7 linked regions of the Homo sapiens genome follow. The protein of the gene in region 1 purifies or fractionates together with the protein of each later gene. This does not show direct contact. Each region holds a gene or a part of one and is shown in the gene's direction. Other genes may lie near its edges. The genes, in order: SLC13A2, SARAF, SEC24D, ALG14, POLR1F, PCNX3 and KDSR.

What was found.
Region 2: the proteins of SLC13A2 (region 1) and SARAF purify together in Homo sapiens (affinity purification with mass spectrometry; one large-scale study listed by BioGRID and IntAct). This does not show direct contact.
Region 3: the proteins of SLC13A2 (region 1) and SEC24D purify together in Homo sapiens (affinity purification with mass spectrometry; one large-scale study listed by BioGRID and IntAct). This does not show direct contact.
Region 4: the proteins of SLC13A2 (region 1) and ALG14 purify together in Homo sapiens (affinity purification with mass spectrometry; one large-scale study listed by BioGRID and IntAct). This does not show direct contact.
Region 5: the proteins of SLC13A2 (region 1) and POLR1F purify together in Homo sapiens (affinity purification with mass spectrometry; one large-scale study listed by BioGRID and IntAct). This does not show direct contact.
Region 6: the proteins of SLC13A2 (region 1) and PCNX3 purify together in Homo sapiens (affinity purification with mass spectrometry; one large-scale study listed by BioGRID and IntAct). This does not show direct contact.
Region 7: the proteins of SLC13A2 (region 1) and KDSR purify together in Homo sapiens (affinity purification with mass spectrometry; one large-scale study listed by BioGRID and IntAct). This does not show direct contact.

What each region holds. Positions count from the first base shown.
Region 1 is NC_000017.11:28,494,144-28,497,643, forward strand, and holds part of SLC13A2 (solute carrier family 13 member 2), read left to right. Parts: intron 1-47; coding exon of another isoform or gene 48-130; exon of another isoform or gene 131-230; intron 231-244; coding exon of another isoform or gene 245-247; coding exon 248-369; intron 370-1,511; coding exon 1,512-1,673; intron 1,674-2,306; coding exon 2,307-2,444; intron 2,445-2,955; coding exon 2,956-3,126; 3' UTR 3,127-3,500. UniProt on the Homo sapiens protein: Low-affinity sodium-dicarboxylate cotransporter, that mediates the entry of citric acid cycle intermediates, such as succinate, citrate, fumarate and alpha-ketoglutarate (2-oxoglutarate) into the small intestine and renal proximal tubule.
Region 2 is NC_000008.11:30,066,065-30,069,564, reverse strand, and holds part of SARAF (store-operated calcium entry-associated regulatory factor isoform 1 precursor), read left to right. Parts: intron 1-2,646; coding exon 2,647-2,788; intron 2,789-3,425; coding exon 3,426-3,500. UniProt on the Homo sapiens protein: Negative regulator of store-operated Ca(2+) entry (SOCE) involved in protecting cells from Ca(2+) overfilling.
Region 3 is NC_000004.12:118,826,127-118,829,626, reverse strand, and holds part of SEC24D (protein transport protein Sec24D), read left to right. Parts: intron 1-3,500. UniProt on the Homo sapiens protein: Component of the coat protein complex II (COPII) which promotes the formation of transport vesicles from the endoplasmic reticulum (ER).
Region 4 is NC_000001.11:95,066,452-95,069,951, reverse strand, and holds part of ALG14 (UDP-N-acetylglucosamine transferase subunit ALG14), read left to right. Parts: intron 1-2,406; exon of another isoform or gene 2,407-2,908; intron 2,909-3,500. UniProt on the Homo sapiens protein: Part of the UDP-N-acetylglucosamine transferase complex that operates in the biosynthetic pathway of dolichol-linked oligosaccharides, the glycan precursors employed in protein asparagine (N)-glycosylation.
Region 5 is NC_000007.14:19,702,538-19,706,037, reverse strand, and holds part of POLR1F (DNA-directed RNA polymerase I subunit RPA43), read left to right. Parts: intron 1-601; exon of another isoform or gene 602-680; intron 681-1,117; coding exon 1,118-1,259; intron 1,260-3,500. UniProt on the Homo sapiens protein: Component of RNA polymerase I (Pol I), a DNA-dependent RNA polymerase which synthesizes ribosomal RNA precursors using the four ribonucleoside triphosphates as substrates.
Region 6 is NC_000011.10:65,632,776-65,635,357, forward strand, and holds part of PCNX3 (pecanex-like protein 3), read left to right. Parts: intron 1-1,303; coding exon of another isoform or gene 1,304-1,350; coding exon 1,351-1,581; intron 1,582-1,762; coding exon 1,763-1,866; intron 1,867-2,197; coding exon 2,198-2,345; intron 2,346-2,442; coding exon 2,443-2,582.
Region 7 is NC_000018.10:63,357,207-63,360,706, reverse strand, and holds part of KDSR (3-ketodihydrosphingosine reductase), read left to right. Parts: intron 1-914; coding exon 915-971; intron 972-3,500.

The sequences.
Region 1 (3,500 bases):
AGCCCCTGCCTTCAAGTATGTAATGTACCTTCCACCACACTTGGCAGGAGTAGGCAAAGCCCAGAAAGGCTGGAGCGACTTGCCAAGGGCACAGGGACTCGGAGACAAAGTTGAGATGTTGCAGAACTGAGGGTCCCCTCCTGCACGCGTTAAGCTCCAAAAGGGACCCACACAGGGAGCCCGCAAATGGAGAGGGGAAAGGCCTGTTTGTTCTTTGGTGACCCATCCTTCTCTGCTTGGGAAGTAGAAAACCCAGGGAAGCTGAAGGCCCCTCTTGGCCTCCTCGACTGGAAGACGGTGAACCAGAAGATGCCGTGGAATATCGTGTTATTGCTGGGTGGTGGCTATGCCCTGGCCAAGGGCAGTGAGGTGAGAGGCCCCCAGCCCCCTCCTCAGCCTGTGTGAGGGTGTCTCTGTGGCAGGGAGAGAGGGGGCCCTGCTTCTGTCCCACAGAGGGGAGACCTGGTCCCCACGTAGGAGCCTCTCGGGTAGGCAGAGCCTTTGCAGCAGCTGGGAAGACTTAGGTTAGAGCCCTCATGTGGGAGGAAGAAACACAAGCCCTAGGGACCTCTTTGTTCAGTTCTCAAAGTCCAAGGGAAGGCAGGATTCTCTGGTGGGCAGAGCCTGTTCTCAGAGACAAATGCCATCCCACCCCAGCCCTTTGCCCGCTGCCAGAGCACACAGTAGCATCAGCACCAAAGTAATTGGGGGTTGTGTTGACGCGGTCTGCCCTCCGCAGCCACCAGGGGGCACCATGATCACACCCACCCAGGCTCTGGGGACCAGAACATCTTTCCCCAGAGCCTCCATCCAAAAGAGGGAAATCCCTGACACGGCATCCCTGGGCCTCCGTGTTCTGGCTCAAACAGAAGGTGGCTGCCCAGGTCAGGGATCGGTGCAGGGGACTCCTGGGTCTGTGGCATGTTCATCCACTGACTGTGCCCAGTCCTGTGCTAGGCGCTGGCCCCACTGAGCGAGATTAAGTCCCACCTTACAGCCTGGCATTCCAGACGTGGGAAGGCAAGACCTCGGAGCTCTTCTGACCCTGTGGACTGTCCCTGTCCTCCCATTAGCCTCTTGCAGCCTCTGTCAGGGTCCTCCCCCAACTTTCCCTCCCTGCCAGGAGCAAGGTTCCCTCTGCCCCAAGCCACTGGACTGGAAGGGGCAGGAAGAGGGCTAAGGTTGTCCAGGGACCTCCTGAGAGAGGTCAGGAAGGCAGGAGTCAGTGCGGTCAAAGATTTTTGCTCCCACCAAGCCCCAAATTTCCCAAGAAGGCCCTTTGGCCCCCTCCTAATTTCTCATCTGCCCCTTCTTCCCACACCCAGCTGTTCTTCAAGAGCAGGAAAGGGCACCCCTTGGTCTTAGCTGGGTCCTATCATCCCTTTAGAGCTGTCTTTGACTCTGAATACCAGGGAGATGTTAGCAGGAGCAGGAGCCTCATAGAGCCTCGGCAGAAGACTTGGGGGCCCAGGCAGCCTTGCCTCTCACATGCCATCCTCCTCTGCCCACAGCGATCGGGCCTGTCAGAGTGGCTGGGAAACAAGCTGACCCCACTGCAGAGTGTGCCAGCTCCAGCCATTGCCATCATCCTCTCCCTCCTGGTGGCCACCTTCACCGAGTGCACTAGCAACGTGGCCACCACTACGATCTTCCTGCCCATCCTAGCCTCCATGGTGAGCTGGCCCTCAGAAACACCTCCTCCAGGCAGCCCGCCTGCCTGCCCCACCAGGGGTTCTGCCTGCTGGGCAGAGTATCCTGTCTTTGCACCTCCTCTTTTCCTTTTCCTGAAGAGGACCCCTGAGTTTCCATCCTTCTCCAGGCTCTTGAGCCACCTTGGGCCCCAAGGCGCTTTGGCCCCTGACTCACCCCGTCCCTCATGATGTCACCCCTGGAGTATCCTGATGGGGATCCTGGTGGCCTCACCCACCTCCCCACCCCAGTCCCTGTTCTGGTCATTCCTGAGGTGACGGGGTGAAATTGCTCCCCGAAGCGTCCCAAGCCCCTTCCTCCCCAGGCGTGTTCCTGCAGCCTTTGATGACACCCCCGGAGCCCCTTTGAGATCAGTTTTATGGGCCCCTCCCCTCACCACACCCCACAAGGCAGGGCAGCACACTCATTCCCTCCAGAGAGGTCAAGAGGCCCTTCCAGGTCACCCAGTGCCTTCTGGGAGAAGAGGTGGGCTCATGACCAGAGAGTGTATTAGGGTACAGGGGTTGTTCCCCAGAGAAGCAGGAGAATTGGGGGCCATGCCCCTCCCTCTGGCTTGGGGACCAAGTTCAGCTCTGCGCCACTGCCTCCCACTCCAGGCCCAGGCCATCTGCCTCCACCCTCTCTACGTCATGCTCCCCTGCACTCTGGCCACCTCCCTGGCCTTCATGTTGCCTGTGGCCACCCCGCCCAATGCCATCGTCTTCTCTTTCGGGGACCTCAAAGTGTTGGATATGGTAAGTGGCAGGGAGGCCTGAATGCCTCATCCCTCCTTCCTGCTCTGACTTTTCATCTTAGTGAACCACAAAGCAGCTTAAAGCCACTGAGAGTCTCAGAGTTGAGCGGGTCCTCATCTGGAATGAAGGTGCAGTTGGGGAGGTTGGGACATGACCTCTCAGTGGTGGCATCTTCAGGCCCTGCCAGCCCCAGGCTATGTGAGAGGGAGGGAAGTGGGTGGGGAACATGGGGAAGGCTCCAAGGTGCCAGGCACCCACACTCAGGGAGATGAGCTCAGAGAGAACAAGCCCAGGGCCCTGGAAGCTCAGGAGGAGCGCCCCTTTCCCCTGTTAGCACAGGGAGTAAAGCAAGGGGCAAAGGCATTGGCTATGCTGCAGGTTAGACCAACGGGAGGACTTCCCAGAGAGAATTTTGCTGGTAGGAGGGCTCCTGTGCACCCCCAAACACCTGGGGACTTGGGGGCAGTCCAGCCCAGTCCCTGCTTAGCCAAATGGACTCTCCTCACACCAGGCCCGGGCAGGATTCCTCCTCAACATCATTGGAGTCCTGATCATCGCACTGGCCATCAACAGCTGGGGCATCCCCCTCTTCAGCCTGCACTCTTTCCCCTCCTGGGCACAGTCCAACACCACAGCCCAGTGCCTGCCAAGCCTGGCCAACACCACCACACCAAGCCCCTAGGCTGGGGCACAGCCTGGCCATGCCCAGGAAGACCCACCCCATTCCCACTCCTCTGAGCCCGGAGGGGACACCCCAAGCTCCAAGCTCCAAGCTCCAGGCCAAAGGCTGAAAGGCACGTGTGTACATAATCTCTTGCGTGTCTGTAAGGAAGGGGTGTATGCTCAGTTTCCTATGTGCTGGAATAAAAGGTGTGTGCATGTGTGTGTGCGCATATGTGTGCGCCTGCATGGATGTGAGGGGTGTGTGACGTGAGGCTATCTGAGGGGGGCTGTGTGCATGCACATGATCCTAGGTATGTATGTTGGACAGTGCACACGTGTGTGTTCACAGACAATACAACATGCCCTCTCTGGTGCCCCAGGTCTTGGTATCCC
Region 2 (3,500 bases), on another chromosome or scaffold:
ATCGTTGCATTGGGAAACCAAAGGAGGTTTGTCTTCTCATTTTGTTTTTTACTTTCAACTTCTTTTACCTCTTCTGTTTGGCTCTCTCCCAAGGTATATTGTGGTTGCTATGTTAATGCCTGATTGGCCGGGCGCGGTGGCTCACGCCTGTAATCCCAGCACTTTGGGAGGCCGGGGTGGGCAGATCACTTGAGGTTGGGAGTTTGAGACCAGCCTGGCCAAGATGGTAAAACGCCGTTCTTACTAAAAATACAAAAATTAGCCGGGTGTTGTGGCGGGCACCTGTGATTCCAGCTGCTTGGGAGACTGAGGCATGAGAATCACTTGAACCCGGGAGGTGGAGGTTGCGGTGAGCCGAGATTGCGCCACTGCACTCCAGCCTGAGTGACAGAGCGAGACCCTGTCTCCAAAAAAAAAAAAAAAAAAAAAATGCCTGATTAAATTATAAATACTCTTAATCAGAGAAACTTGATCAACTTTGCTAATAATCATTTGCCCTGACTCCTGTCTCACACTATACATAAAAATTAATTCTTTAAGTATTATAAATCTCAACGTAAAAGGTAAAACAATTAAGTTTCCAGAATAAAACATAGGAGAATATTTGTTATGACCTTAGGATAGGGAAAGATTTCTTAAACAGAACATAAAAAGTACTAGCCATAAAAGAAAACATGGGTAAATTAGACTTTATTTAAATTAAGAACATCTAATCATCAAAAGGCACTATTAGGAGAGTGAAAAGGCAAGCTACAGACTGGGAAAAATTTACGAAACGTATTTCCGGCATATATATATATAAAATGTATTTCCGGTAGAACATAAAATGAACTCCTGTAAATCTGAGCAACAGGCAGACAGGCCCTCCAAAGAGGACTTGAATGCCCATTTTATAATAAGAGAAGACATCTACTTCACCAGTCCCCAGCCTTTTTGGCACCAGGGACCAGCTTTGTGGAAGACAATTTTTCCACGGACTAGGGGGGTTGGGGTGGGGTGGGGTGGGGAGAGAAGGTTTTGGGATGATTAAAGCATATTACATTTATTGTGTACTTTATTTATGTTGTTATTACATTGTAATATATAATGAAATAATTAACAACTCATGTAATGTAGAATCAGTGGGAGCCCTGAGCTTGTTTTCCTGCAACTGGATGGTCCCATCTGGGGGTGATGGGACACAGTGACAGATCATCAGGCATTAGATTCTCATAAGGAGCATGCAACCTAGATCCCTCGCATGTGCAGTTCACAGTAGGGTTTGTGCTCCTATGAGAATCTAATGCTGCTGCTGATCTGACAGGAGGCTGAGCTCAGGTAGTAATGCAAGTGATGGGGGAGTGGCTTTAAATAGAGATGAAGCTTCAGTCGCTTGCTTGCTGTTCACCTCCTGCTGTGTGGCTCAGTTCCTAACAGGCCGTGGAGCAGTACTGGGGTCCCAACCCATGATTTACATGTTCAACAGAAATAAGAAAAGGTGCTTAGCATCATTAGTCTCCTGAGAAATGCAGATGAAAACCACAGGGAGATTATTTTTAGCCACCAGATAACCACCATAATGGCTAACATTAAAAAGACAGAGTACCAAGTATGGGCAAGAATGTAGAGTGACTGGAACTTTCATACTTTGCCGGTAGGAGTTTAAATGGTAAAACAACCCAAACATGCATACCCAATTCTATTCCTATGTACATACCTGGGAGAAGTGAATGCATGGTGCACCAAGAAAGATGCACAGGAATGTTCATAGCAGTTTTATTTATAACTGCCAAAAAATGGAGGTGGAATATCCATAAACATTAGAATGGGACTGTGTAAATTTTTCACACGGTGGAAGACACATGAGTTAAGAAAAAAACTGATAATGCAATGGTAGGATTGACTCCCATAGACATAATGATGTGCCGGACACAGAATACATACTTTGTGATCCTGTTTAGAAAAAGTTCATGAATGGACAGAATTAAAATATGGTAAGAGAAGTTAAAGTAGTGCTGATCTCTGACATAGATGGGAATCTATTAGGAGTTGTCATGAGGGAGCCTTCTGGGGTGCCAGAAATGGTTTATTGGTGTGGGTGGTGGTTACATGGATAGGTACATATGTACAAATTTGTTGTGCCACACGTGTAAGATTAGCACACTTTCTTATATATATGTATACATCAGTTAAAACTTCCTCTGAGCAGAAGATACTTTTTAGGTCCCTTTGAGATCTGACTTCCCAACTGACACAAATAAATATCTGGCTGCCTCCCCTTGGATTCCTCGGTTAGAGACTGAGGCACAGCTCTCATCTGGAGCTCTTAGAGACTCCACTTAGAGTTTGTACTGCAGAGAGAAAGTAACCCTGAAAAGTGGGGTGATTTTCTAGTAGCTGATTGAGCAGGGCAGATGTCATTTTATAGCAAGACCCTCCCCAGTCCCAAAATCTATCCCTCTCCTCCCATATCTATGGGAAATGCTCTCCCTCATTATAAACCAGTATTTTACAAATACCTTTTTGAATACAACTTGTTAATAACTTGATGCCTGAGTATTATTAATAATTCAGTACAGATGAAATAATTGAAATGTTACATTATCTTTGCTTTTGTAGACTGTCATGTTTAAGTGAGGATACATAATAAATCATTTTTATTTTAAGGACCACAGAATACTGGCCATGGTGCAACTTCTGGTTTTGGCAGTGCTTTTACAGGACAACAAGGATATGAAAATTCAGGACCAGGGTTCTGGACAGGCTTGGGAACTGGTGGAATACTAGGATATTTGTTTGGCAGCAATAGGTAAGCTTTTTGCATTGATCTCACTTGCTCTTTAATTCAAGAGGCTTGTTTTGCTTACAATTTAACTGCATTTAGTTTTGCTAAGGAAAATAAATTGTGGTGACGTTAGCCTATTAAATAAGATTCTCTGGGAAGGGGGAAGGTACACTATATTTGTTTTGATCAGTATTGTGTATGTTATTTTCTTTCACTGTGTTTCTTCCTGTGTCACCTTCATATATATTATGAGATAAGAAAAAGACTGTTTAGTTGACATCTGAGAAAATAAGAAGGCAGGAAAGAAGACAGCATTTGGGGAACAGTCTGGTTTGGTAGGAGAATGATAAAAATAAGGCTGGAAAGAGCTTGGGGCCAGATTTTGGAATATGAAGTATTAATGGTAGTTTAAGTTTAGATTTTATTCGAGTGCAAATTCAGAAAGAGCATTGACTCCCTGTCACTTTTCCCCCATAGCAGTGACCATAATAATGGCAGAAATATGAAACGGTTTTTATTTCATGTTAACTCTGATATACCAGAACATTCAGGAAAAAATACTTGATAAAGATATTTTTTTCTGACAGTTTAGGAACAGGAAGGTATTTAAAAATTATAGCCACAAGAAAAAAATGCCTAACCTACTTTTATCCCTTTAAAGAGCGGCAACACCCTTCTCAGACTCGTGGTACTACCCGTCCTATCCTCCCTCCTACCCTGGCACGTGGAATAGGGC
Region 3 (3,500 bases), on another chromosome or scaffold:
TGGTCAGGCTGGTCTCAAACTCCCGACCTCAGGTAATCCACCCGCCTCGGCCTCTCAAAGTGCTGGGATTATAGGCATGAGCCACCGCGCCTGGCCCCTAACACTTTTTTTTAAAGAGACAAGGTCTTGCTCTGTTACTCAGGCTGGATTGCAGTGACGAAATTATAGCTCACTGCAGCCTTGAACTCCTGGGCTCAAATGATCCTCCTGCCCCAGCTTCCCAAGTGGCCAGGATTATAGGTGTGCCCACCATGCCCAGCTAATTTTAAAATTTTTTGTAGAGATGGGGTCTCACTATGTTGCCCAGTTCTGTCTCGATCTCCTGGCCTCAAGCCATCCTCCTGCCTTGGCCTCCCAAAGTGCTGAAATTACAAACATGAGCCACTGCACCCAGCCACAAATTTAACAATTTATTTGATGAACAAAATAATTGTGGTAATATGACACTTAATAAAATAAGCCTAATCTCAGTCCTCATAGTATTTACTTAGCTAGTGAGAAATGCACTAAAGAAATTAACAATGACAATTTTGTGGGGAAGTACTATTGTAAAGGAAGTAGAGGGTGGTATGGAAGCACGTGGCAGGGGCACCTAAACAAGACTTAGGGTGGAAGGGCTCCTTCCCGGAGGGAATGCCCTGAAACATGAGTGAGAATTGGCCAGGTCGGGAAGCAGTTTGCTGGGATTGGAAGGCGGTACTTTTCAGGACCTGCAAGACATTTGGCATAGCTGGGGAATAGCATGGGAACGGTGAGAGATGCCATTGGCGGGGGAATGTGGGATCATTTTAAGGAATTTAGACTTTATTGTAAGGGCAGTAGAGTACCACTGAAGTGATTTAGTCTGGGAAGGGTCACAATCCAATGTATGTACAGTTTAGAAAGCTACATAGAACATTACTAAGTGTGGAGAAGGAATTACAGCTGGGCATACTGCTCTCTGCAGCAGGGTTTTTCAGCTTCAGCACTATTGACATTTGGGGCCAATTAATTCTTCGTTGGGGGAGGGTAACAGAGTGCCATCCTGTGCATTGTGGGATATTTAGTAGCATCTTTGGTCTCTATCCACTGGATGCCAGTAGTACCTCCCCCAACCTTCTGGGAGTTGTGGCAACCAAAAATGTCCCAAACATTGCCAGATGTCCTATTTTAGGGGCAAAATCGCCCTTGCTTGAGGACACTGGTCTGGAGACTGAGAGTTAAGAAGTATTAATGTAAGGCCGGGTGCGGTGGCTCACGCCTGTAATCCTAGCACTTTGGGAGGCTGAGATGGGCAGATCACGAGGTCAGGAGATCAAGACCACCCTGGCTAACATGGTGAAACGCCGTCTCTACTAAAAACGCAAATAAATTAGCCGGGCGTAGTGGCAGGCGCCTGTGGTCCCAGCTACTCGGGAGGCTGAGGCAGGAGAATGGCGTGAACCTGGGAGGCGGAGCTTGCAGTGAGCTGAGATTGCACCATTGCACTCCAGCCTGGGAGACTGAGCGAGATTCTGTCTCAAAAAAAAAAAAAGTATTAATGTCCTGAACCTAGAACAGGGGCTGTGGGGTGGTGATAGGGCTCCTAATAGTGAGCTTATATAGGTGGATCAAGCATGGTGCTTTAGGGACCATGGTCATTACAATTCTACCCATATAATAGGGAGCTTATCTTTGTTTATTTTAGATAAACATTTTCCCCCCCCAACAAATGGCTTTTAATTTTGGTTTTAGTTTGTCAGGTCCAGGACCAAATTCAAGGCATGCTATTCTGTGATGTGGTTTGGTCAGTGTTACTTTGCTGATAACAGTCCCCTTTAGTGGAAAGGGATTTGTTAAAGGGTATCAGGAAGCAAACAAAACATCAGAAAAAGGCAGAGAACCAGACTTGGGAGTATGTGGTCCATGAAAATGAACATTCCCATGCAGGACCATTCCACCAGAAGTCACCACCATTCTCTCCCAGGAGAATCATCTCTGCCACCAGGCTGGCCAGAGTCTCCCAGAGGTGTGCTGCTTTGCTGAATTTAGAGCATATGGCAAAACAAATTGTAAGGCAGTCTAGGAATTTTCACTTTTCCACCTCAAGACCTTATATTAATATTAATAGAAAAGTCAGAAAGGGATTGGAATTGTTGTGTTTACTGGTCCATGGTATCTGCCGCTGTGTGAGAGACCAACTTGTGATCTTAGATTTTTTTTGGTGGGGGGTGTCTTAAGAACAGTTCATTCTCATTGCACGGTGTTCCTTTCCTATTAAAATTCTCATATTGCTCTATAAAGGACCTGATTCTGTTTGTGTTTGAGTACTTTTGAAAATGCCAATAACATGGCTGGGGGAAGACTATGACTTTGCAGATATCAGTGATACTGACTTCCCTTTGCCCTGGGGGTGAAGTGCAAGTGACACATAGGACTTTGCAGTCTGACCCCAGCCAACCTGGACAGCTTCCACTCTGGCTACTTTCCCTCCCAGCCTCTCCACACCAAGCCTTTCCCCTGTCCTGGTCGTGCCATCCTCTCTCATGTCTTTGCTCAAGCTTTGCTTTCTAACTGGAATCCCTTATCCTGTCTTCTATATGAAGAAAACTCCTGCTTGTCCTTCAAGATTCAGCTCAAGCAGTCCTCCTTCTTTGAACTCTTCTCAATTCCCCCAGGAAGAGTTAGGTAGTCTCTCTGCATATTGTAACAGTCATCCCAAGACATTGTAATGATTTGTTTACATGGTTGTCTCTTCTCTCAAATGGCTCAAAGGCACCTTAAATGTATGTTGAATAATAATGAGAATGATTTGAGAATGCCACAGAATGATTTGAATCACTGCCATAGAGTTGATTCCCAAACAAAAGGGAGAGCACAGTAATATTGATGTATAAAGTTCTGCTTGCATATATCAGAGCTTTTTTTTTTAATTCTCTAGACATGTCTATAGGGGTTTTCATGAAAATTGCTGCTATCCTACTTATTTTTTTAAAGGGGGAATATTTTTGGAGAGCTGTGAGGCAAATTTAAAAAAAGAAAAAAAAAGACCAAAAAAAAAAGAATATTTTCGACTTCTCGTAGTGCATGTAATTATTTAAGTTGAAAATATTTTAATGCTACTGTTGTGAATTGCCTACTTTTGTCCAAAATAATGTTTTTAAAATGAAAATATAAATGTGCTTGTAATTATGTTGCATATGCTTTGTTAGAATAAAAATGCTTAAGAAAGGAGAGCAGGGGCTATGGCCAGGGAAGATGAAACAGCTGTTTTAAAAACCGTCATATCCATTGGTTCATTTAATTCTCAGAACAATCCTTGGAGCTAGGGAATATTATTGCCATGACATGGGATTACAAGTTGAAGCTCTGAAAAATAGAGTATCTTATCGGAGTCACAAATTCAAACTTGTCTGTGACTGCAAGTCTCATGTTTTTCTAACTTTGCTGGGTTTGGGGTTTAGAACTTTGTATTAAAGTGTAGTGCTATAAGGATAATATTTATTGAAAATAGTGGTATATGAATTTGCTAAGTAAAACTA
Region 4 (3,500 bases), on another chromosome or scaffold:
TTAAAGGTGTGAGCCACCTCGCCCAGCTCCCCAGCTCGGATAATTTCTTTATGGCCAGTTTTTACACAGAAAGGTGGAGTAAAATTAGAGTAGTATTTTTAGGTTTTATGACCAGCTTTTGGGAGAAGGAGTTCTTGGTTTCTGTGACCCGCCCTGGGGAAGAGAGATTCTAGTTTCTATGGCAAGCCTCAGGGGAGTATGGGACTGAGAGACAGAGGACAGGAGAAGGCCAGAGAAAAATTTTTGCTTCTAAGGCCTTCATTTTGGGATATTATTTTCTAAGTCCCAACACTACTATTGATTACACACTAAGGGATTTGTTTAACATTCTGGTATAAGGAGGTAACAATCACAAAGGCCTCTATCTCCAATGTCATTTAGTCTAGGTTTGAATAAAGACTAGGGAATCTGGTTAATGTATAACATCTCAACACAAAGGTCAGGAAGCAACAGACATACACCAAAGAGAAAAAGCCATGTTACATGAGTCAGTTTCCAGGGCTTAGCTTTTCCCCTTGGCATAATAAATTTGGAAGGTCTTGACATTTTCTTTTCTTTTTACATAAGCATTTAATAAATGGTTACTGTTATTAGTCTTGGTGGCAAAAGGAGCTTTTGAAGTTTTGTTTTGGTTTTTGTTTTTAAGACAGACTCTTGTTATGTACCCAGGCTTGCCTCTAAATCCTGGGATCAAGCGATTCTGAGACAGCCTCCCGAGTAGCTGGTACCACAGGCACGTGCCACCGCACATGACTTATCTTTTTCAGTGGAGAGTCACCCACTTCAAGCCTGCATTGTCAAAAGAATGTCTTGACAAAGACCGAAGTAGAGAAACAAATAGGAGCCTTTTGAATATTTCAGATAAGGATGTGAAAAGAAGGTGATAGCACTTGGAATGGCCAGAGTTGAGAGACTGGAGTCTGACTGGAGTGATAGGTGTGGGGCTGGAGAAAAGCAATCGCATTCAGATGAGATTGGAAGATTTTAGGAGTTAAATCCACAACTGTGGATTGAAAGTAGAGGATGTGGGAGGGAAGGACTGAAGGGTGATTTCCAGGTTTCTGACTTGAACAAATGGATGGATGTTAGAACCATTCACTTGATAGTGTTACATTTGGTGGACTAGAAACCAAAATTAAGGTTGATAATTCACCTGGCAAATGGTGCCTTCATTCAGATTATTGAGGGTAGGAAGGTATCAAGGGCCTGAAAGAACCATGCCAATTAAAGGAAGACTTGTAATCAAATAAGCAGTTTAATAGTTCATGCCCAAAATTTTGGAGGAGGCAGAAGGCATTTTCAATATTTACCTTGAAGACCAAGCGACATTTACTCTTTAGATATCATAAAATATTATTAGTAGGCCAGGCACTGTGGCTCACGCTTGTAATCCCAGCAATTTGGGAGGCTGAGGTAGGTGGATCACCTGAGGTCAGGAGTTCAAGACCAGCCTGGCCAACATGGCAAAACCCCATCTCTACTAAAAAATACAAAAAAATTAGCTGGGCATGGTCGCAGGTGCCTGTAATCCCAGCTACTCAGGAGGCTGAGGCAGGAGAATCGCTTGAACCCAGGAGGCAGAGGTTGCCGTGAGCCGAGATCACGCCTGGGCAACAGAGCAAGACTCCATCTCAAAAAAATAAAAAATTATTAGTAGATCACTTCTGTTCAGAGAACATTTGCCAAAACTACTTTTCTTTGAAACATAATACAGCCTTCTTAGGCAAATGTTAGATTTAATATCAAACATTCATTCTTTCATTCAATAGGACAGCCTGCTATTTCTAGGAATAGGAGGTACAGCAGTAACAAACACAAATCCCTGCCCTCATAGTATGGTGCTTGCCTTCTAGTGAGGCATGGATAGAGGGAGATAAAAAGCAAAACAAATAAATAGACTACATAGTAAGTTATGCAGTGATAAACACTACGATTTGGGGAAGGGGCATTGCTTTTTTATGAAGATTGTCAGGGAAAGCCTTCTTGGGGAGATGACAGCCAACAGCAAGGAGGCTAGAGTGATTAGAGTAGACTGAGTAAGCGGGGAGGAACAGGAGATGAGCTCCAAGAGGGAACATAGTTGAGGTCAGAGTATAAGAAGCCTTTTATTTCACATGAGACATGAAGCCACTGGAGGATTTTGAGCAGAAGTAAATAATTTGATCAACTCGAATAGGGTCACACGGGATGTTATGTTGCGATAGACTGAAGGGGAAGTGGGTCAGGGAACAGATCAAGAAACTGTTCATAATCCGTATGAGAGGTGATAGTGGCCTGGAGCAGGGGAGTAGCAAAAGAAATGGTGAGAAATGATTGGATGCTGGATGTATTTTAAGGTAGAACTTAGAGATTCTTATTCTCAAAAAAAATGTATCAATAAAAGAGTAAAATGGAAGACAAAATCCATCATTTTAATGACTTTATTCAGTAACAAGTTTAAATTTTCAGTGAATATACTGTCAAGCTAAATAACAGAGAGAGATTCTCCAAAGATAATAAGTGTATTCAAGAGTAAGCATTGTAGTGTGGAACACACATGCCGAGTAAACTATGGGCACATTCAAAGAGGCAAGGGAAGACAGCAATTTTTAAAGCTAAAATGGGGAGGGTTACATAAGTTGTTTTGAAACAATTATCCTTGCTTACAGGGATCAATAATAAGGGTGGCATCAGTCCAAGGTTAGGCAGGCAACTGCTGGGCAGATGTCCTTGCAGAAGTTTTTTTTTGCATAAGGTTGCAGTGGCCTTTGTACAAGGTTGTGGTTTTGGTATAGTCTTTTGTAACAGTTCTTGTTTTCAGGCGATTGAGCATTAAGAACCCTTCCTTCATGGCCTTTCCCAGCTCCATTTTGTCACAAGTGACTCTATTTTTATCCTGACAACTTTCACAGTATTCAATGAGGGTTTCCTTAAAAAATAAAAATAAAAATAAAAAGTTTAAAAAAGGAAATAAAAGACTATTAAAGCAGGTATAATGAAGTTTTAATTGTAGTGGAAGATGTTGTGGATATTAGGTTTTATCCTTAATTATTCCAGCTGTGAAAACAAATACCTACTTGGAGTACCACCACTTGTTTTTTTTTTCTTTTTTGAGACAGAGTCTCGCTCTGTTGCACAGGCTGGAGTGCAGTCTCAGGTGATTCTCCTGCCTCAGCCTCCTGAATAGCTGGGATTACAGGCATGAGCCACCGCACCTGGCCTAACTTTTTTGTTTTTTTTCGAGGCTAAACCAAAGATACTAAAATGAGTATAAACCAGATGTGTAAATTATATGCCCCAGTCAAGAAGATGGGTGACAGGTTATAAAGCTAATGTATGATTTTAATTCCTGAAATTCACACTAAATCTATGCCAAATTTGTTTCTATATATAATTCCTTCTGGGATCTAGAACGAAATCCTTTCCTTTCTACTATTAAAAAAAAATGTGGGCTTGGCATGGTGGCTCACGCCTGTAATCCCAGTACTTTGGGAGGCCGAGTGGGTGGATCACCTGAGGTC
Region 5 (3,500 bases), on another chromosome or scaffold:
AAATTCAAACATATATACAGATAGGTTCAATACAATTAGATTAAGAACAGTGAGAAAGTTGGCCTATAGGAGTAGAGGAATGATTTCAGCTTTGCCTGGGGGAGTCAGGGAAGTTTTCTCCAACAAGTAGTGGGTGTGGTAATGAAGCCACCAGGTTTTGTTTGTTTTGTTGTTTTTTGTTCCTTTGTTTGAGATGGAGTCTCCCTCTGTCGCTCAGGCTGGAGTGCAGTGCTGAGATCTCAGCTCACCACACCCTCCGCCTCCCACCACTAGGTCTTTCTCCTTAATAGTTATAATTCCTTAAAAGCTAAGAAATAACAGTTTGAAAAATAGTTGTCCCTTAATCATGACTGTTACATTTGTAGACTAAAGTGTCAGTCAGTTCCTAAATAATGTAGTTGTATTAACATTTGCATTTACTATCAACAGTTGAAGTTTGGGATTTTCTCTATTAAGTCATTGACTTTAAAATTCAGGGGCTTCAGCTTTAACCGTAATGCTTCCCTTGTTATACGCCGTCAAGTACTGAAATTCAGTAATGGTGAATAATACCAAAATTGCCTCTTATTCAGTCATGTCCACAGAGATACACATTTTCTTTGCTAAGTCCCTTCTTTCTATCCTAGTATAACTTGAAGAATTCAAATAGTCATGCTAGGATAGAAAGAATGGGACTTGGCCAGGGAAGAAGAGTTGATTTACTGCTAATGCATTAATTGGGCATTTTGTTTCTGTGTATCTTGAGTCATCATTTTAACTTAGCCAACACATCAGAATCCATTGGTGAAATGGGACTACTAAAGTTGTTACAGACTAATCATATACTATTGTTTTTGACATAGGTGGTGTATTTAGGAGATGTGTAAGTTTTGGATAGAATATCTAATCAGTATGAAAATGGCCTGGTTTGAAAGAGTGCAGTGGTGCACACCTATAATCTCAGCACTTTGGGAGGCTGAGGCAGAAGGATCAATTGAGCCCAGGAGGTCGAGGCTGCAGTGAGCCCTGTTGATGTCACTGCACCCTATCCTGGGTGACAGAGCAAGACCCTGTCTCCAAAAACATAAATAAATAAAAGACGATAAAAGGTATCATTTTCAACTTTTTCTTTTTACAGCCTTTTAGGTGTCCCTATTGCATATGATAACATCAAAGTTGTGGGAGAGCTTGGAGATATTTATGATGATCAAGGACACATTCATCTTAACATTGAAGCCGATTTTGTTATTTTCTGCCCTGAACCAGGGCAGAAGCTTATGGTATGTGTATCACTTTTTTCTAGCTCCCTTTGTATAATTCTATAATTATGTAACTTGGAACATTTTAAGAGATAATATATACCTTGGGACTCAAATAAATTGCTATTGTGAGTAAATAAATATTATTTTTAAGGAAAAATTAATTTGTATCATTCAAACGTAGGTAAGTTTTTGAATATCCTCCTAAAACACATACATGCACACGATATATGTCCCATCCACTTTATTCTTTTCATAGTAGCAGAATGATTTTAAGGGCAAAAAAATCAATTATCATTATTATTTCAAAAGTTCTCAATTCTACACAAATACTATTTCTTTATAAAGGATTCAAAGAATATAGCAGTATATGAAACAGGAATTCAAATGGGCCAGGCAGTAATGAAAATTTATCAATGACAGAGGACAGGGCAGCCAGTCTGTGCCTTGGAAATGGAAGCTCTGTGGGAAAGGTCTTCCAGTTTTTCATAAGCTGGAAATGCAGATATTGATACAAAATCTGCTGAAATAGATCCTTTTTTACTCTTTACTTTCTCCTCTCTTCCTCCAGCAGTTCTCTGTGTGTATACACATGTTCGTATGTATACTTGTATGTGTGTGTATATGTTCTTTTCCTTAGCTGATAAATATTTTAATAGATCAGAACTGTTAACCCTTGATATTGTTCATAAAAATATAGATCAATTTAACCATGACAAAACCCACAAGACACTTCCAATTTTTTTCATTTTTCAATATCAAATTAATACAAGTAGTATCCTTTGCCTGTTAAACTGGGATCTTATAACTGGACTACTAAAGTTGGCAGTAGATTTGTATTTGGAAATTAACAAACTTAACTTTCATCTACTTTGTGTAAATTATTATTTTAAATATAAACATGTAGGCCAGCCACAGTGGCTCACACCTACAATCACAGCATTTTGGGAAGCTGAGGCAGGAGGATCACTTGAGGCCAGGAGTTTAAGACCAACGTGGGCAACATAGTGAGACCTCATCTCTACACAAAATAAAAAATTAGCCAGTCATGGTGGCATGCATCTGTAGTCCCAGTTACTCAGGAGGCTGGGGTAGGAGGATCACCTGAGCCCAGGGGTTCAAGGCTGCAGTGAGCTATGATTGCGCCAATGCATTCCAGCCTAGGCAACAGTGAGACCCTGTCTGTAAAAATACACACACACATACACGGAAATAACATATATACATGTACATGGAAATAACAGATTGTAGAAAAAGTATGAAATGAAAAATATCCCTTTTAATCTACCTACTACAAGATCCACTCCTCAAATATTTTTGACCACCCACTTTTCCTTCAATTATTATTATTAATATTTGGTGAGATAAAATTTACATATAATAAAATGCACAGATCATATTGTTCAGTTCAGTGAATTTCGTCAGGTCTGTATACCATTCCATCTCCTTAGAAAGGATCTTCATGCCCTTTCCTGGCCCAATTCCTTCTCTTTATTGCAGATATAATTACTCTTCTGATTTTATCATAAGTTGGTTTTGCTTATTCTATAGTTCCATATTAATGGAATTATTCATTATACATTCTTAAAATCTGCCGCCTTTTGATCAGCATGTTTTTGAGTTTCATCCATGCTGTTGTGTGTATTGGTAGTTTGTTCCTTTTTATTGCTCATGGTATTCAGTTATATGACTATATCACAATATAATTATCTGTCTTCATTGATGGATTGATTCCAGGCTGGGGCTTTTATGAATAAAGCTATTGAAAACATATATTTTCAGACATATGAATGAAAACATACATTTTCATTTCTCTTAAGTAAATAACTAGAAGCAGAAGAGCTAGTTCACAGGGTATTTATATAAAACCATTGTCAGACTGATTTCCCATTCAACACTTCATTTACTCTGTATCGTTATTAACATTTGCTATTGTCCTTTAATTGTACTGATGGGCATATAGTAGTATCTCATTATGGTTTTAATTTGCATTTCCGTTTCCCTCATAAGCAATTTTTCATATATTTCAGTAAGAAGGGCCTGTTCAAGTATTTTGCCCATTTTTAATTGGGTTTTTGTATTTTTATTATTGACTTATAGCAGTTCTTTTTAGTCTTAAAATGAATTCTTTTCAGATAAGTATTTTGAATATTTTCTTCCAATCTGTGACTTGTCTGTTAACTTGTAATGGTATTATTTGATGAACAGTTACTTTTAATTTTGATGAGGTCCAATTTATCATTTTATATGTTTATGACTATT
Region 6 (2,582 bases), on another chromosome or scaffold:
ATTCTGTCACCCAGGCTGGAGTGCAGTGGTGCCATCTGGGTTCACTGCAGTGTCCACCTCCCAGGTTCAAGTAATCCTCCTACCTCAGCCTCCCAGGTAGCTGGGACTACAGGCATGCACCACCATGCCTGGCTAATTTTTGTATTTTTTGTAGAGATGGGGTTTCGCCATGTTGTCCAGGCTGGTCTTGAACTCCTGGGTTCAAGCGATCCTCCCACCTCCACCTCCCGAAGTTCTGGGATTACAGGTGTGAGCCACCCTGTCTGGCTGAAGCTTTTCTTTTCTGGGTCTTTTTAGCAGCTCTGGTGGTGCCTGGATTGTAGAGGCGAGCTATGGGCAAGAAAGTCAGTCTGGAGCGGGTCTGCCCTGGCAAAGGGCCTGCCCCATTAGCTCCATCTTAGGGTGGCACATGGAATCCCCATCACCTCACTGGCTGCCCTGCCGGCCTTAACCCGCCCGTGCATCCTGGCCATGCCAGCTACCTGTCTTCCAAAGCTCCTGTACTTTTGCCCAACAGGGCCTTTTAACAAGAGGTCCAGGAGCCCCCAGCTTTGGGTACCACATGTGCCCGTGGCTTTTTTCTGAGGCGAGGCCTGATGGCTGTCATGCTTCAGCTGCCTAAAGGGACCTGTGACCCAGGCACTCTGAGGCAGGCCCACTACTTCAGCCTGCCCTTCCGGCCCCGAGATCTGGATCCCACAATGTCATGATGGGGAAGGTCCGGGGTTCAGGCGGCAGTTCAGTCTGTTCTGCCCCACTCGCTCCCCGCCCCCTGCCCATGTGACATCTGGATGCTCCCGCGCTCGGGGTTATGTTTGTGCAGGAACACCAGCTCCTGCTGCTACCTGGCCCACGTGCTGCACAGGCACTGAAGGTTCACCTGAGGGCCACACCATAGTGTCGGGGCCAGCCAGAGGCGGGTGGGGGACAGGGTTCAGGGCAGGTGGGGCCAGCTCCACCTTGATGACTTGGAAGCTGAGGTGGTAAATGTTGAGTGTGATGATCTTGTTCTCGTTGGGGGCTGCCATTTGTTTGAGCCTCAATTTCTCATACAAACGGGGCATATTCTAGGGCAGAGGCAGGCAGATGCTGCTTGTGAGTGCTAGCCCCAGCACAGGACTTCCTGCTCTGTAAGTGGGTGCTTCCTGGCGGCTTTGTCACTCCTCCCTGGTCTAGGGGAAGGAGCCAACTTGCTTGGTTGCTCTTGAGAGCTGAGATGGCTCTAGGAGCGGGGCATCCCAGAAAGCGGACTTCAGCTCAGTCTTGGGGAGGAGCCTCTGAACCTCCATGCTTTCTCCTCCAGTGGCCAGGGCCGGGACCCCGGCCTGACGCCTGCCCCTCCTCTCCCAGAGCATCATCTACTACGTGAGCCGCTCACCAAAGCTGGAGGTGTGGCTCAGCCATGAGGGCATCACGGCAGCCCTGAGGCCTGTGCGGGTGCCCGGCTATGCCGACTCGGATCCCACCTTCTCGCTGAGTGTGGATGAGGACTATGACCTCCGCCTGTCTGGCCTCTCGCTGCCCTCCTTTTGTGCTGTGCACCTCGAGTGGATCCAGTACTGCGCCTCCCGGCGCAGCCAGGTCAGGCTCCACTACCTGAGGCTGCCACCTGGGGCTGTGGGACCTGGGCTTCCCTGCTCCCCTTCTCCCCATTTGGTTTCCTCTCACTCTGAGCCTCCCTTAGCCTGAGCCCCAGCCCCCACTCCAAGGTCCCTGTCCCAGGTCTGAGCTGGGCTCTGGGATGGGGGTCCTTATGCCACAGCCCGTGGACCAGGATTGGAACTCCCCGCTGGTCACGCTGTGTTTTGGCCTGTGTGTGCTGGGCCGCCGGGCCCTGGGGACAGCCTCTCACAGCATGTCTGCAAGGTGAGTGCTCGGGTGTCCCGCGGGGCCTACTGCCGTCCCCACCCCACCTCTTCCACGAAGAGCACTGTGGTCTCTGGCCACAGTGGCCACAGAAACTGCAGTGGCCCTTCCTGTTGGGGTACCTCTTCTCCCACGGGCAGGGCACTTCCTGGTCATGACCTTGCCTGCTCCTCAGTGCTCTGTGAGAGACATGGGCAGAGATTGGCCTCTTTGTCAAGATGGGGAAACTGAGGCTCAGCGTGAGGAAAGGCCTCTGCTTGGATCACTCTGAAGCCTTACCCCTGGGTCCTCGACACCCCTCTCTCCCCTCCCTGTTTTTCCTCCCACTTAGCCTGGAGCCCTTCCTCTACGGCCTGCACGCCCTGTTCAAGGGGGATTTTCGCATCACCTCCCCACGTGACGAGTGGGTCTTTGCCGACATGGACCTGCTTCACCGCGTTGTGGCGCCTGGGGTTCGCATGGCCCTCAAGCTTCACCAGGTTGGGGAGGGGTGTGCCCAGCAGCATGGGCAGGTGGGGGATGAAGCCTCTCTCCAGGGCAGGGGCCACTGACCCCTGTTCCCGTCTTCTCTACCAGGACCACTTCACGTCCCCAGATGAATATGAGGAGCCAGCAGCCCTATACGATGCCATTGCGGCCAACGAGGAGCGGCTGGTCATCTCACATGAGGGTGACCCAGCATGGCGCAGCGCCATCCTCAGCAACACGCCCTCCCT
Region 7 (3,500 bases), on another chromosome or scaffold:
TTCACCATGTTGCCCAGGCTGGTCTCAAACTCCTGAGCTTGGGTGATCCACTCACCTTGGCCTCCCAAAGTGCTGGGATTACAGGGGTGAGCCACCATGCCTGGCTGAGAAATTCTTTCTTTTCTAATGTAATTTTTAATTCCAGTCTTTGCAAAGTCAAGCTGTATGTATCTTTAGTCATAGGACAATATTATTTCATTATAGACATATTCAGGTTTAGAAACTCTGCATGCCTTTTGGAAGAATTCGCCTCTCCTTTGGTTCCTCTCTATTGCATGATATTATTTAAGTTACTTTTTACAGCAAATTAAGATAATCTGATATCTGTTTTCTTGAGACTAAGTAAAACAAACAAAATTAGGACCTTGGAAGAATTACATAATTACACAGGTAACCTTGCTTAAGAGTATTTTATAGTAGCCAGGCCTAGTTTACCCAGTCTATCCAGAAAGTGATTCTTACTATGTTTGGGTTTATAGTAGAAGAAGAAAATATTGGACAAAAAGCAGTATTGACAGGGAGTCACACATACCCTCAACTTTGGGGAGCAGTACATATTAATAGAGTTGTTCTTGTCTTATATCACAACTAAATAATAAGACATTTATTAGAACTGTAGAGTCAGCCTCAGCAATTAGTACTGTTAACTGGGATTTTGAGGTTTATCTGTTTTCTACTATCTTTCTCTAATTAATTTTCAAACTTTTATCACTTATTCATAGCTTAACATACTTCACAACTTCTTTCTTTCATAGGCTGTGGCCCAGTCTGTCTATGCAATGTAGATACTGTTTTGTGTGTTTTCTGGAATTTAATACATACATATAGAAATAATTGCTTTTTTTCTCTCCTTTGCAATAAACGGACATGCATATAGACGGTCATCACGACTAATTATTCTGTATTGCTTTCAGGATAAGCTGCTGCAGGCAAAGAAAGAAATTGAAATGCACTCTATTAATGACAAACAGGTAAATCTCTGTCTTCAGAATGCATTTTCTGTATAACTCAGCACAGCTGTATAAAGGAAAAACAGAGTTACTTCACCTGTGAATAGTTAATTGAAAGCATATATGTACTGTTTTTTAAAAGGTGGAATTGTTTGAATGGTCTAGTAACTCAGAATATCACACACACGCAAAATGAATAGACTCCCACACACATTCATATCTACAAATGGTCAAATAACAGAATGTTTTACTGGCAAATAATTTCATTTTAATTTTTTTTTTAATGAACTTTATACAAATGCTTAAGAGGAAAGGAATATTTAAAATTTATTTGGTTATGGAATTTTTGATGAATAAAATGCTATTTATATTTCAGTATAAAACATAATAGCAAATTAATAATCACACACCCATCACCCAGCCTAAGAAGTAGAAATGATCAGGGTCTCTGAAGCCCCCACAGCAGCCTTGTCCCTCTTTTCTTGTTCCTAGAGGGGCAAATGCCAACCCGATTTTTGGTGTTAATCCTTTCTTTTTCTTTTCTTTTTTCTTTCCTTTTTTTTTTTTTTTTTTTTTTTGAGGCAGTGTCTCAATCTGTCATCCAGGCTGGAGTGCAGGGGTGCGATCTCAGCTCACTGCAGCCTCGACCTCCTGGGCTCAAGCAGTCCTCCCACCTCAGCCTCCCTAGTAGCTGAGATTATAGACACGTGCCATCATGCATGGCTAATTTTTGTATTTTTGGTAGAGATGGGGTTTCGCCATGTTGCCCAGGCTGGTCTTCAACTCCTGGGCTCAAGCAGTCCGCCTACCTCTGCCTCCCAAAGTGCTGGTATTATAGGAGTGAGCCACTGTGCCCTGCCTCTTTTTCTTTTTAATTTTACCATATATGCACATAACTCTAAATAATAATATATTGTTTAGTTCTTTTTTTTTTTTTTTTTTGAGACAGAGTCTCTCTCTGTCACCCAGGCTGGAGTGCAGTGGTGCCATCTTGGCTCACTGCAACCTCCACCTCTCGGGTTCAAGCGATTCTCCTGCCTCAGCCTCCTGAGTAGCTGGGATTACAGGTGTGTGCCACCACACCCGGCTAATTTTTTTTGTATTTTTAGTAGAGACAGGGTTTTACCATGTTTGTCAGGCTAGTCTCAAACTCCTGACCTCAGGTGATCTGCCTGCCTTGGCCTCCCAAAGTCCTGTGATTATGGGCGTGAGCCACCATGCCTGGCCAATATACTTAGTTCTACTTCTTTTATTATATCATTCTTATTTTTTAACAGCTTTATGAGATATAATTTATATACCATACAGTTGACCCATTTAAAATATATAATTCAATGATTTTTAATGTATTCATAGAGTTGTGCAACTGTCATCAAAATCAATTTTAGAATGTTTTCCTCACCCCGTGAAGAATCTCCATGTGTATTAGCAGTCACTTGCCATTTCCTCCCAGCCTCTTCTCAGCTAGGCAGTCACTCATCTACTTTCTTTCTCTATAGATTTGTATAACTTCCTTCTTTATGCTTCTTATGCAACTTGATTTCTTCACTCAATATTATTATTATTTATTTCTTATTTATTTATTTATTTTTGAGATGGAGTCTCGCTCTGTTGCCCAGTCTGGAGTGCAGTGGCACAATCTCAGCTCACTGCAACCTCTGCCTCCTGGGTTCAAGCCTCAGCTTCCTGGGTAGTTGGGATTACAGGCGCGCGTCACTACGCCCAGCTAATTTTTGTATTTTTAGTAGAGACAGGGTTTCACCATGTTGATCAGGCTGGTCTCGAACTCCCAACCTCGTGATCCGCCCGCCTCAGCCTCTGAAAGTGCTGGGATTACAGGTGTGAGCCACCATTCCCAGACCACTCAATATTATTCTTTAGGCCAGGTGCGGTGGCTCATGCCTGTAATCCCAACATTTTGAGAGGCCGAGACGGGCAAATCAGTTGAAGGTAGGTGTTTGAGATCAGCCTGGACAAAGTGGTGAAACCCTGTCTCTACTAAAAATATAAAAAGTTAGCTGCACCTGTAACCCCAGCTACTCAGGAGGGAGGCTGAGGCAGGAGAATCACTTGGATCTGGGAGGCAAAGCTTGAGGTGAGCAGAGATTGCACCGCTGTACTCCAGCCTGGGTAACAGAGGGAGACTCCATCTCAAAAAAAAATATATATATATATATATATATATGTATGTATGTATGTATGTATATATATGTGTATATATATATATAATTTTAAAAATTCATTTATGTTGCTGCAAAAAGTTGGAGTAAATTTTTTTTTTTTTACTGCTGCGTAGTATTCTATTGTATGTATAGACTACATTTTGTTCATCAGTTCAGCAATTGGTGGATATTTAGTTTGTTCCCAGTATTTTTGTTAGTTTGTTTTGTTTTTTACTATTAGAAAAGCTTTCAGTATTCTCTTTGTGCACGTGTGCAAGAATGGTACATACCCAGAAATGGAATTGCAGAGCTGTAGTGTATGCAGTTCTTCAACCTCACCAAAGTGGTTAAGCTCCCATAAGTAGGAATGCGGTTTCTGTTGCGCCAC